Linked DNA regions of Homo sapiens. The protein of the gene in region 1 purifies or fractionates together with the protein of each later gene. This does not show direct contact. Each region holds a gene or a part of one and is shown on either strand. Other genes may lie near its edges.

What was found.
Region 2: the proteins of MPDU1 (region 1) and QRICH2 purify together in Homo sapiens (affinity purification with mass spectrometry; one large-scale study listed by BioGRID and IntAct). This does not show direct contact.
Region 3: the proteins of MPDU1 (region 1) and CLN6 purify together in Homo sapiens (co-immunoprecipitation; one large-scale study listed by IntAct). This does not show direct contact.

Annotation. Positions count from the first base shown.
Region 1 is NC_000017.11:7,582,285-7,586,655, reverse strand, and holds the start of MPDU1 (mannose-P-dolichol utilization defect 1 protein), read right to left. Parts: upstream 2,805-4,371; 5' UTR 2,794-2,804; coding exon 2,691-2,793; exon of another isoform or gene 2,564-2,690; intron 925-2,563; coding exon 859-924; intron 711-858; coding exon 578-710; intron 1-577. UniProt on the Homo sapiens protein: Required for normal utilization of mannose-dolichol phosphate (Dol-P-Man) in the synthesis of N-linked and O-linked oligosaccharides and GPI anchors.
Region 2 is NC_000017.11:76,277,277-76,280,776, forward strand, and holds part of QRICH2 (glutamine-rich protein 2), read right to left. Parts: intron 3,453-3,500; coding exon 3,378-3,452; intron 3,176-3,377; coding exon 3,011-3,175; intron 2,879-3,010; coding exon 2,757-2,878; intron 2,153-2,756; coding exon 2,087-2,152; intron 1,867-2,086; coding exon 1,765-1,866; intron 914-1,764; coding exon 713-913; intron 35-712; coding exon 1-34. UniProt on the Homo sapiens protein: Has an essential role in the formation of sperm flagella and flagellar structure maintainance. It acts as a suppressor of ubiquitination and degradation of proteins involved in flagellar development and motility.
Region 3 is NC_000015.10:68,219,619-68,223,332, reverse strand, and holds part of CLN6 (ceroid-lipofuscinosis neuronal protein 6), read left to right. Parts: intron 1-3,714.

The DNA.
Region 1 (4,371 bases):
CTAGAAAGAGGCAGGGAAAGCCTCCATAGCCCATCCATCCAGGGACACTATGCTCTGATCACGCTTCTCTACAGCCCCCACACGGGACTGGCTCATTCTGAATCGTGGCCATTCTCGGGATGCTCACCCCTTCTCAAGATCACCTCCACTGGTGATGATTAGGTTTCTAAAAGGGCTTAAAACTTTCCTAGCCCCTTGTCCCTTTTTTTTTTTTTTAAGACTGAGTTTCGCTCTTGTTGCCCAGGCTGGAGTGCAGTGGCGCAATCTTGGCTCACTGCAACCTCTGCCTCCCAGGTTCAAGTGATTCTCCTGCCTCAGCCTCCCAAGTAGCTGGGATTACAGGTGCCCATCACCACACCCAGCTAATTTTGTATTTTTAGTAGAGACGGGGTTTCACCATGTTGGCCAGTTCGAACTCCTGACCTCAGGTGATCCACCCGCCTCGGCCTCCCAAAGTGCTGGGGTTACAGGTGCAAGCCACTGGGCCCGGCCACTTTGCTGCCTTGTAACCTCCTTCACCTTAATCCCCATTAGAGTTGTGGGTATTACCCTTGGGGTGGAAGGGTGGGCCCCTCACCTGAATGGGAAGTTGTTAGTGATGCTGTAGACCATGGTCCCAGTCAATGCCACTAGCTCCAGCATTACAGACTGGAGACTCAACCCTTCAGCACTCTTGGCTCCCAGGATTTTAAACACCTGGGGCAGCTTTACTAGGGGAAAGATGAGAAAAGTAGGACTGAGGACTCTCCATTCTTTGGGATGCAACACAACAGCTATAGAACGAACACCCACACAGTTGATGGCCTCTCAGCACCTCCACCCCAACCCAACAGCTGGAAAGAAAGATAAGAGACATACCTAGAAGTGAGCCAGCCACAATGCCCAGCCCCAGGCCTTTGCTGAGGAGAATCTTGAGGCAGGGGACTGAGGAGAGAAAAAAGGGTAAGCAGACAGGAGATGTCTGAAACCCAGGCCAGGGCTTGAAGCTCCTGTGGGCTCTCCCCGAGCCCCCTTACCCACACCAGGGTCTTGCATTGTCTTGGGGGGAGGAGAGGCGGAGGGCAGTGAGAAAGTCCTGGTCCTTCCTGCTCCAAACCACCACACTTTTTTTTTTTTTTGGAGACAGAGTCTTGCTCTGTCACCCAGGCTGGAGTGCAGTGGCCCAATCTCAGCCCACTGCAGCCTCTGCCTCTTGGGTTCAAGCAATTCTCTTGTCTCAGCCTCCCAAGTAGCTAGAATTACAGGCACACACCACCATGCCCGGTTAATTTTTGTGTTTTTAGTAGAGACAGGGTTTCACCATGTTGGCCAGGCTGGTCTCGAACTCCTGACCTCAGATGATCCACCTGCCTCAGCCTCCTTAAAGTGCTGGGATTATAAGCTCGAGCTACCGCACCGGGCCCCAGACTGTTACTTTCCAAAACAGCTTTTCTCCGATGCCTACCACCCCCCACATCCAATCTTCCATTCCCTATAAATTAACACCCAAACTTGGCTTGACCTCCACGGCTCTCCATTGCTTCCCCATATAAAGCTGAGAAATGCCCAAGAGCTCTCTGATCCTTTATTTCCCTTCTCTGGGCCAATGGGTGCCCCATTTCACATGTCTTCTCTCTCCAAAGACAAGTCTTCATACCATTTTTTTTTTCTTATTTTAATTTTGAGACGGAGTTTCACTCTTGTTGCCCAGGCTGGAGTGCAATGGCACGATCTTGGCTCACTGTAACCTCTGTCTCCCGGGTTTAAGCGATTCTCCTGCCTCAGCCTCCCGAGTAGCTGGGATTACAGGCGCCTGCCACAACGCCCGGCTAATTTTTTGTATTTTTAGTAGAGGCGGGGTTTCGCCCTATTGGCCAGGCTGGTCTCGAACGCCTGACCTCAGGTGATCCACCCGCTTCGGCCTCCCAAAGTGCTGGGATTACAGGCGTGAGCCACCGTGCCCGCCCCATACCACTCTTTCTTGAACACTCTGACTGTCCCTGGCCCCTACTCAGGGACTAAACCTTACCCTTTCAAGGCTTGCTTTTATGCCCTGGCCATCCACAACTTCTCTAGCCTTGAAGCCTTCCCCTCAAGGAACTTGGTCTAGTGGGAGTCTGACTCTCACGGGTCATGAATGCGGCTAAAACAAAGTGCCCCACGAGCTCAAGAGAGGTACCATGAACTGACAGGGGCAGACTGACGCTCCCCAAACGGTCTGACGGTGACCCTTGTGGAGCTGTCTCGCAATCAGAAAAAGGAAGGGAGGCAAATTATTCCGAAATCAGACTATGAGCAAACCTGGAGGCTGGAAAGAAAGCAATCAGGGTGGCGGAGCCTTTGGGGGTGCAATGAAGGCCCGATTCATCAGGGGCTTTGAATTAAGTTTAACCCTGCTAGCGATCTAATAAAGGTTGGCATGATTTGACTTAATTTTTATTTTGTTTTATAAAAGTTGACTCTTCGTTTTTCATTGTCGCTACAGCACAAACTCCACAAAGAAGTAATTCCACCCGGTGACTTCCCCACTGGCACTAATATGGTGTCCTCCCTCTAAGGAGCCCGAGACACTTCCGCCCTTCTCAGAAGTGACTTCCGTCCAGCTCGGCATGGCGGCAGTCACTGCCGTCACTTAGTCGCCGATCAAGGCTTGGACTAAGGGCCCACGGTCACTCGAGTAGGACTTGGATCGGATGCTGAATAAAACTCACCGTGAAGCAAGTCCCACTGAACGAAAAGTTGGTCGTAGCATTTCTCAGGTAAAAGAATCGGCACGAGCAGCCGTTTAAGCGGTCCGTCCGCCTCGGCCGCCATATTGCAAAGCTAGCTTCCGCCAGTCTCTCCAGACCGCCATTGACTTTCGTTGCGCGTGCGCGCTGCGGACACTCCGCCTCCCGTTCTTTTCCCGCGGCGAAGCTGGCCCGCCCCGTGCCCCGCTCTTTCTGACGCTACCCACCCTCACTCTAGTGGCGTAAAATAAGTCTCAGTCAGGGACCACGTTTTGGACGCGCTGTTGGAATTGTAAAGCTTGCCGAAGCTGCACGCCTGCGCGGTTAGACCTCCCACGCCTTTGTTGACGCTTCCAGTTTGGAAGCCAGATTTACACCCCTGCCTTTCTCCGCTCCTCCTGCTGGGCGCCATCTTGTCTTCTCCTAGCACACTTTGTATTGTTCGAAGTTGAGAGAGAAGGAGCCGGAGTCTCCGAGGTGGCGTTGGGTGGGGGCGCTACTAGCTCCCGTTCTCTCAGCGTCTCTAGAGGGAAGGGCGCCGGTGGGAGCAGGAGAGTCTGCACCGGGCAGGCCTCCTTAGGTGCCGGGTTGCGCGCAGGGCCCTGTGCTTGTCTCGCCTCCGGTTGGCTCAGGCCTCGGAGCATGAGTGCGCCGGCAACTGCTGGGCCCGGGACAGTGAAGCAGAGGAGGAGGTGGGGGAGGCGAGCCCAGGTCGGGGAAGGGCAGCACCTGAATCACCCTTGGGGCCCAGACCCCCAAGAGTCTCCGGGGAGCCGAGGCCTGGCGAGGCAGTCCCGGGATTCGCCCCCTCCCCGCTGGCCCGAGGGCGCACCACGTGCTGGGCAGAGACTTCGGCGAGGCCGAGTGGACCCTGCAGCGCTGCTTGGGAAAGGGCACCTTGGACTACCTGGTGGGGGCGTTGTGCTTCGTTACCGACCGCCGGGACGCCAACCCACGGTGCCCACCCGTGCGTCATTCCGCTGTGGATCAGCCCTTTGGCGGCCCCCCTCCAAAGTCTACAAGGTCACACGGATGTCTGCAGGCAGAGGTGGGGCTGCTGGGGCCCTGCCAGGTGAGGGCTGCCCTTGTGGGGCAGTCTCTGGGCCTTGGAGGCCGGAAGCCTCCTGGGGCTCCTACGGCTGGGGGGTGCTGCTCATCCTGGCTCCCAGGGATTGCGCCGTAGCCAGCTGTAATGGGTGGGACTGGCGCTCACTGCTGGTGCAGGCTGTGGCCATCTGGGAGGTCCTTTCTGGAATCTGGACCTTGGCTGTCCTGAGAGTGACACTCCTCATCTCAAGTACTGGGGGCATGAAGTTAGGCTTGGCAGGTGGCCCCGTGTGGGGGGCATGCTGTTCCCAGGAGCCCCCAGTGGAGGTCAGAGTACCCACTGCTCCTTCTTGATTCAACCCCTTGTAGGTGGGATAGGAGCATGCCAGGTGCTGCGAGGGTTTAATCGGGCTCTTCTGCTGGCCTTGAATATGGTGGACAGGACAGGACATTCTCATTGCTCAGGAGCCACTGGCGCTGCCTTTGGGAATGAAGTTCCACAGCCCCCCACTCATTGCTTTGGCTGTCTGCTGCATTTGAAACTGTACGAGGGTCAGGAAGAAGGCTGCGGGGATGAATGGCTCTACCGGCTTGCCACGGATGGGGAACTGGAGCA
Region 2 (3,500 bases), about 69 Mb from region 1:
AGTTGAGTAGGTGTAATCAGCCATATCTGTCACCCTGTGATGAAGACAGGATGGAGTCATTGGGAGCAGACCACCAGGGATGTCACCTGGGACTCACCCACCCATGGGGCTGACCAGAGGGAAGGGGCACAGCTTCTCTTCGGGGGCTGCCGGGAGGCTGAGCAGCAGGGGCCCAGAACAGGCGGGCGGGGGTAGAGCAGCCGTGAGGCCGGGCCACCCCAGTGACTGTGCACATGGGCAGGCGTGCACACACACACCCACACACTCACACATGTACTCATACACACAGTCACACACACACATACATGCACACACACATACTTATGCACATACACACGAAGATGCACATACACACGAACATATACATACATACTCATACACATGCACACACACACACGTACTCATACACACGTACTCATACATGCACACACATACTCAAACACCCACACTCACGCACTCACTCCCACACTCATACACACACGCACTCATACACACACACCCTTACACACACTCATACATTGACACACCCATAGACACATGGCTTACACACATCACACACACTAACACCCCTCGCCCACACTTTCTCTCACACACACACACTCCCTTTTCTCCCCCAGCAGTGGGGCAAGGCATTTGCACAGCCGTGCACGAGCAGAAGCCAAGCCTGGTCACTGGGTGCCTGCTCCCATGGCCTCGCCCGCCTCTCCTGTACCGTTTGTAGCAGGGGGAGCCCAGGCACTGGGCGTGCAGCAGCTCGCGGATTATCTGGCTGCTGGCCTTGGTGGAGCCCCCGAAGTGGATCTGCACCTTCTCAATGTTCATCAGCATCTTGGAGTGCATGGAGCGCAGGCGCCCCACGCTCTGCTCCATCTGCGCCAGGTCACCCCGAGGGAAGGCGCTGCCCAGCTTGAGGCTGCAGGGTGTGAGCAGAACAGAGGGAGGGTTGGCCCATGGCGGGGGCCTTGACCTTGTGTAAGCCGAATCCTTCAGTTCCGGGTCCCTTTTGTGCAGGACCCAGCTAGGCTGGGGGTCGCTGGGCAGCTTGACCCCTCAGCAGTAGTCCTTTCCACAGCATCTGAGGGCCAGACTTGCCGGGAAGGCTTTCCTCAGATGGGGAAGTGCAGGCCAGCCAAATGGAAGAAAGCCCTGCTGCCTGTCTGCAGCTGTGGGTGGAGGAGCTGAGGGCAGCCCCGGGCCTTCCCATCTCGGCGCACCTGGCCTAGCATACCTGGAACCCACAGGGCTCCAAGAGCAGCCTGAAGTCCTCTGAACTATGGACTCCCATCCTTAGGAGAAGGGGAGCAGCAGAGAGGTGGGCAGGAGCCGGAGGGAGCATGAGATGCCCACCGCCAGCCTCCTTCGTTGGCTGAGCCCACCCTCTGGCTGAGCTATACCGGACCCTCCCCCCACCGCTCTAATCCCGGGGTTGCTGAGACAGCCGAAGGCTGAGGAAGAGGTTGAGAAGTAGAGGAGCTCTCAGAGGCAGCTGGCGCCCTTGACGAAGTCCCACCGTAACTCCCAAAAGCAGGTGTGACTAGGTCTGCCTCCTACGCTCATGCCTTGGGAACTGCCAGGGAGCTAGTTCAGAAATCGGCCTGCGGCCCCCACTGTCCCATTCCAAGGAGGAGGCTCTCCACACTGTCCCACAGCACTGCCTTCTGTCACGTTCCGCTGGGCCCTCCGGAGTCATCCCTGTCCCCTGCCTTCCCCATCCAGAGCCCTGGCCCCGGACCCATATGTCCCATATGCTGTCCCATAGCATACTTGCGGCTATGCTGCCGGACCTGCTCCAGTTCAAACACCGTGTAGGGGCGGATGGAATGGTGCCCAGGTAGGCCTGGACCCGCGGGGGTCACGGGGATGGCACTGGGCAGGGACAGAGGGAGAAGGGGCGGGTCAGAGTGGGACAAGTCCGGTCCCCCAAATCCACCTGCCTAAAGAACCTTCCCACCCGCCCCCGGCCTGGAAGGGAGCGAGGGCTGGAAGCAGACACATGAAAGAAAGGGAGAGGACAGGTGGACACAGGTGAAGGGAGGAGACGCAGCCCTGCCATGCGAGGCCACGTGCCGGCGGTGTGGGCACTCACTGTCCAGTCACAGGTGTCTCCAAGGGCCGGTCACATGAGAGGCAGTGGAAATGTGCCAGGAGCTGCCTGTTAGGAATGGGACGCACACGCAGGGTGAGTGCTCTGCCCGGAAGACCCAGAAGGGCTTGGGGCTCTGCAGGCCCCTGGAAGCTCAGCCCACCAGGGTGCAGATCATGTCCCTGCTCCCCAGGAATCCATCTGCTCCCACCTCTGGGCTCACATCCCAGACCTCCCTGTCCTAACCCAAAGCCAGCAGGCTTCCCATGGGCCCCTGAGGGTGCCCTGTGCAAGTCTCGGGCGCCCCCTGGCGGCCACGAATGGGAATCCTGGAATTCAAGCCTACCACGGGCCAGGTCCTATGGGCCAGGCCCCCAGGAGCTGTCTCAGCTCTGGGTACTGAGGACCTCTCCCTGTCCCAAAGGCCCAGCTTAGCTCAGCCAAACCCTGAGAGCCTTAAGCCTCCCCTCCTCCCTTTCTCTGCTGTAATACGAAGGGGCCTGAGCTAGAAGAGCGTTTCAAGCTCTAAAATTCTGTCCCTCCAACCATGGGACAGTCCTGGGCAGGATCCGCTGTGTGCTGGCAGGAGCTGTTTGTCTGGAGACCCCCAGCCCCCTCTGCCCTCACCCCCTGAAGAGCGTGCCAGCCTCCTCCCCTGCCTCCCAGGCCTCACCTCCGCATGGCAGCCGCCTCGTCTGCCTGGTAGAGTGGGGGGCGCTCCCTGAGCTGCTGTCGCAGCGATTTCCACCGATCCTCCAGCAACTGCTTCACTGGGTCCAGCTCCAGGCGGTCCAGCTGTGGCGGGGAAAGAGGGGCCAGGGGACCTCTAAGGAAGCAGGTAGGGGGCTGACCCAGGAGAAGGTGGTGCTGTCCCGATCCTGGGGGCAAGGCTGTGGGATGGAGAGCCCCGCCATGCCCCTGCCTCACCTTGTTGTCCATCTCTGTGAGCAGCCTGTCCAGCATCTTCTGCCAGTCCTGCTCCTGCCCGCTCATCTTGGCCACCAGCTCCTGCATCATGTGGTTCAGCTGCTCCGTGGTGGCATCAAACTGGACACGGCTCACTTTGGTGGCCAGAGCACTCTTGTCGGCTTTCTGCCCAGAGACAGACAGAGGTCCCCGCATCTGGGAGATGGCCATGGAGGGGCCCCATTCCCTGGGGGTGTCGACCCCTATCACCAGGCAGGTTTCTGAGAGCCCACACTCGTCTCGCCAGCTCCCCTCCACTCAGTCTCTCAAAGAACAGTCAGCGAGACCGCCCTGGGACACAGCGTGGCTCCTGGGGCCTGGCACCCACCACATCGATCTCCATCTCCAGGTGCTCCCTGTTGGCCTTTTCCTTTTCGAGCTTCTCCAGACCCTGGTACAGCATCTGGGGAGGCCAAGTGAACAGAGAAAAAAAGAGCCAGCAGCTGCGGGG
Region 3 (3,714 bases), on another chromosome or scaffold:
GTCCCTTCTCTTTCTCTGGCTCCAGTAAGCCAGGCATCTCAGCTCCATGCAGAACCTTCTTCACTTCCACCTCCAGGCCTTTACCCTGCTTTCCTGCTTTTCTGCCTAGTTAGATTCATCCATCCGTGCTTTGAGGCTCCCTTCCCTCATGCAAGCTTTGTGTATTGCCCTAGGCCACGCTGATCCTTTTCTTTTTTTTTTTCAGTATTTATTGATCATTCTTGGGTGTTTCTCAGAGAGGGGGATGTGGCAGGGTCATAGGATAATAGTGGAGAGAAGGTCAGCAGATAAACACGTGAACAAAGGTCTCTGGTTTTCCTAGGCAGAGGACCCTGCAGCCTTCCTCAGTGTTTATGTCCCTGGGTACTTGAGATTAGGGAGTGGTGATGACTCTTAACGAGCATGCTGCCTTCAAGCATCTGTTTAACAAAGCACATCTTGCACCACCCTTAATCCATTTAACCCTGAGTGGACACAGCACATGTTTCAGAGAGCACGGGGTTGGGGGTAAGGTTATAGACTAACAGCATCCCAAGGCAGAAGAATTTTTCTTAGTACAGAACAAAATGGAGTCTCCTATGTCTACTTCTTTCTACACAGACACAGTAACAATCTGATCTCTCTTTCTTTTCCCCACATTTCCCCCTTTTCTTTTTGACAAAACTGCCATCGTCATCATGGCCCATTCTCAATGGTCGCTGTCTCTTCGGAGCTGTTGGGTACACCTCCCAGACCGGGCGGCCGGGCAGAGGCACTTCTCACTTCCCAGACGGGGCGGCTGGGCAGAGGCGCTCCTCACTTCCCAGACGGGGCGGCCAGGCAGAGGTGCTCCACACCTCCCAGACGGGGCGGCCGGGCAGAGGCGCTCCTCACCTCCCAGACGGGGCGGCCGGGCAGAGGCGCTCCTCACATCCCAGACGATGGGCAGCCGGGCAGAGACGCTCCTCACCTCCCAGACGGGGCGGCCGGGCAGAGGCGCTTCTCACCTCCCAGACAGACGATGGGCAGCCAGGCAGAGGCGCTCCTCACTTCCTAGACGGGGTGGCGGCCAGGCAGAGGTGCTCCTCACTTCCCAGATGGGGCGGCCAGGCAGAAGGGCTCCTAACCTCCCAGACGGGGCGGCTGGGCAGAGGTGCTCCTCACCTCCCAGATGGGGCGGCCGGGCAGAGGGGCTCCTCACCTCCCAGACGGGGCGGCCGGGCAGAAGGGCTCCTCACATCCCAGACGGGGCGGCCGGGCAGAGGGGCTCCTTACTTCCCAGACGGGGTGGCCGGGCAGAGGCGCTCCTCACATCCCAGACGATGGGCAGCCGGGCAGAGGCGCTTCTCACCTCCCAGACAGGGCAGCCGGGCAGAGGGGCTCCTCACTTCCCAGACGGGGCAGCTGGGCAGAGGCGCTCCTCACTTCCCAGACGGGGCGGCCGGGCAGAGGCGCTCCTCACATCCCAGACGATGGGCAGCCAGGCAGAGGCGCTCCTCACTTCCTAGACGGGGCAGCTGGGCAGAGGCGCTCCTCACTTCCCAGACGGGGCGGCCGGGCAGAGGCGCTCCTCACATCCCAGACGATGGGCAGCTGGGCAGAGGCGCTTCTCACCTCCCAGATGGGGTGGCCGGGCAGAGGGGCTCCTCACATCCCAGACGATGGGCGGCCAGGCAGAGACGCTCCTCACTTCCTAGATGGGGTGGCGGCCGGGCAGAGCCTGTAATCTTAGCACTTTTGGAGGCCAAGGCAGGCGGCTGGGAGGTGGAGGTTGTAGCGAGCCGAGATCACGCCACTGCACTCCAGCCTGGGCAACATTGAGCATTGAGTGAGCGAGACTCCGTCTGCAATCCCAGCACCTCGGGAGGCCGAGGCGGGCAGATCACTCGAGGTCAAGAGCTGGAGACCAGCCTGGTCAACACGGCGAAACCCCGTCTCCACCAAAAATACAAAAACCAGTCAGGTGTGGCGGCGTGTGCCTGCGATCCCAGGCACTCGGCAGGCCGAGGCAGGAGAATCACGGGAGCCCGAGGCAGGGAGGTTGCAGGGAGCTGAGATCACGGCAGTACAGTCCAGCCTCAGCAACAGAGGGAGAAGGAAGAAGCGAGGGAGAGGGGGAGGGTTGGGGGAGGGGGGAGGGAGATCCCTTTCTAACCTGATCTCCTGATAAGCCTAGTAATCAAAAACAGAATAGCAAGCTGTTGGCCAGACATGGTGGCTCACAGCTGTAATCCCAGCACTATGGATGGCTGATGTGGGTTGATTATTGAGCCCAGGAATTTGAGGCCAGCCTGGGCAACATAGTGAGACCTCATCTCTACAAAAAATAATAATAATAATAATAATAATAATAAAATAAAATTAGCTGGGCATAGTGGCATGCACCTGTGGTCCCAGTTACTCAGGAGACTGAGGTGGAAGGAATGCTTGAGCCTGGGAGGCCAAGGCTGCAGTGAGCTGTGATCACACCACTGTACTCCAGCCTAGGTGACCCTGTCTCCAAAAAACAAAACAAAAAAACAGAATAGCAAGCTATTAAGAGCACAGGTCTTGAATTAACATAAACCCAGGTTTGAATTGTGTGTGTTATTCAGGACGACTGGGTTGCAAGTGACAGAAAGCCAGTGTGAACTGCACCATCCTTAGCAAAAAGGAATGTGTTGGCTCATATGGCCAGATCATGAACTGGCAACATGAACACTGTCAGCACTTTTTCTCCCCCTTTCCCTGATCCTCTCTGCGAGGCTACTTCATTCTTACCTGGATGTCCCTTGAGGGTGGAACCTTGGCTGTAGGCAGTCCTGGGCTTGCACCCTTAGAACCCAGCACTATAAAGGAAGGAGCTCTTTTCCTCACCTGCAGTTGGAAAAGTCCCACTGGGCCAGTCTAGATCACTGGCCCTTCCTGTGGCTAAGAAAATATCATGTCTTACCAGAAGAAGCAGTGGGTGGGAAATAGGCTGACAAAAGGAATTGTTGCCACAGCTCCTTACTACACGGGTGGCTTTGGCTAAGCACCTAATCCCTCTAAGCCTCAGTATCCTCATCTGTAAAGCAGATGCGTGGATTAGATGAGATAGTGCAGGTAAAGACCTAGCATTGCACATAGTTGGTGTTCAGTGAGGGGGTGGAAGATACCGAGTAGAGGGGACAGGAAGACTTAGCTGACCTAGGGAAGGCCTACCCAACCTGTCTTGCCTGCCACTAGAAAATGAGATTTCTCCCAAGAGCTTGCCTCCCTGTCCTGGGGTACTCTACCAGCCAGTATGGATCATCCTTGGAACTGGCAGGAAGGGATCTCAGAAAATTAGGGAAGCAACAGCAGTATCGACAGAAGACAGTCTTTGCAGTGCCTCTAAGCTAATGTTTGCCACTACAAAAGGAGTAACTGGTCGTTGTGACTGTTTTAATCAGCCAGTAGTTGCTGAGCATGGACCAGGGCCTGAGCTCAGAACTCTGGAGGAATACAGATTTGTGGTCCATGGCGCCTGTTCTTGGCACAAACGAGACGATGAAACCCACACCTCAGTCCTCTTAGGATGTGGCTGGCTGCTTGTCCCTGGAGGTGTGCAAGTAATTGCAGGGACTCTGTAAAGAGGATTTGGACTCTGATAGGGAGGTGGGTGAGTTGGGAGAACCTTAAAGGTCACCCCTGTTCTCGAGGGTCTAGATGGGAGAGTACAGCTCCAGCCCCATTATGCCAGACTGGGTTGGCGTTGAAATGCTCCCTGCAGTG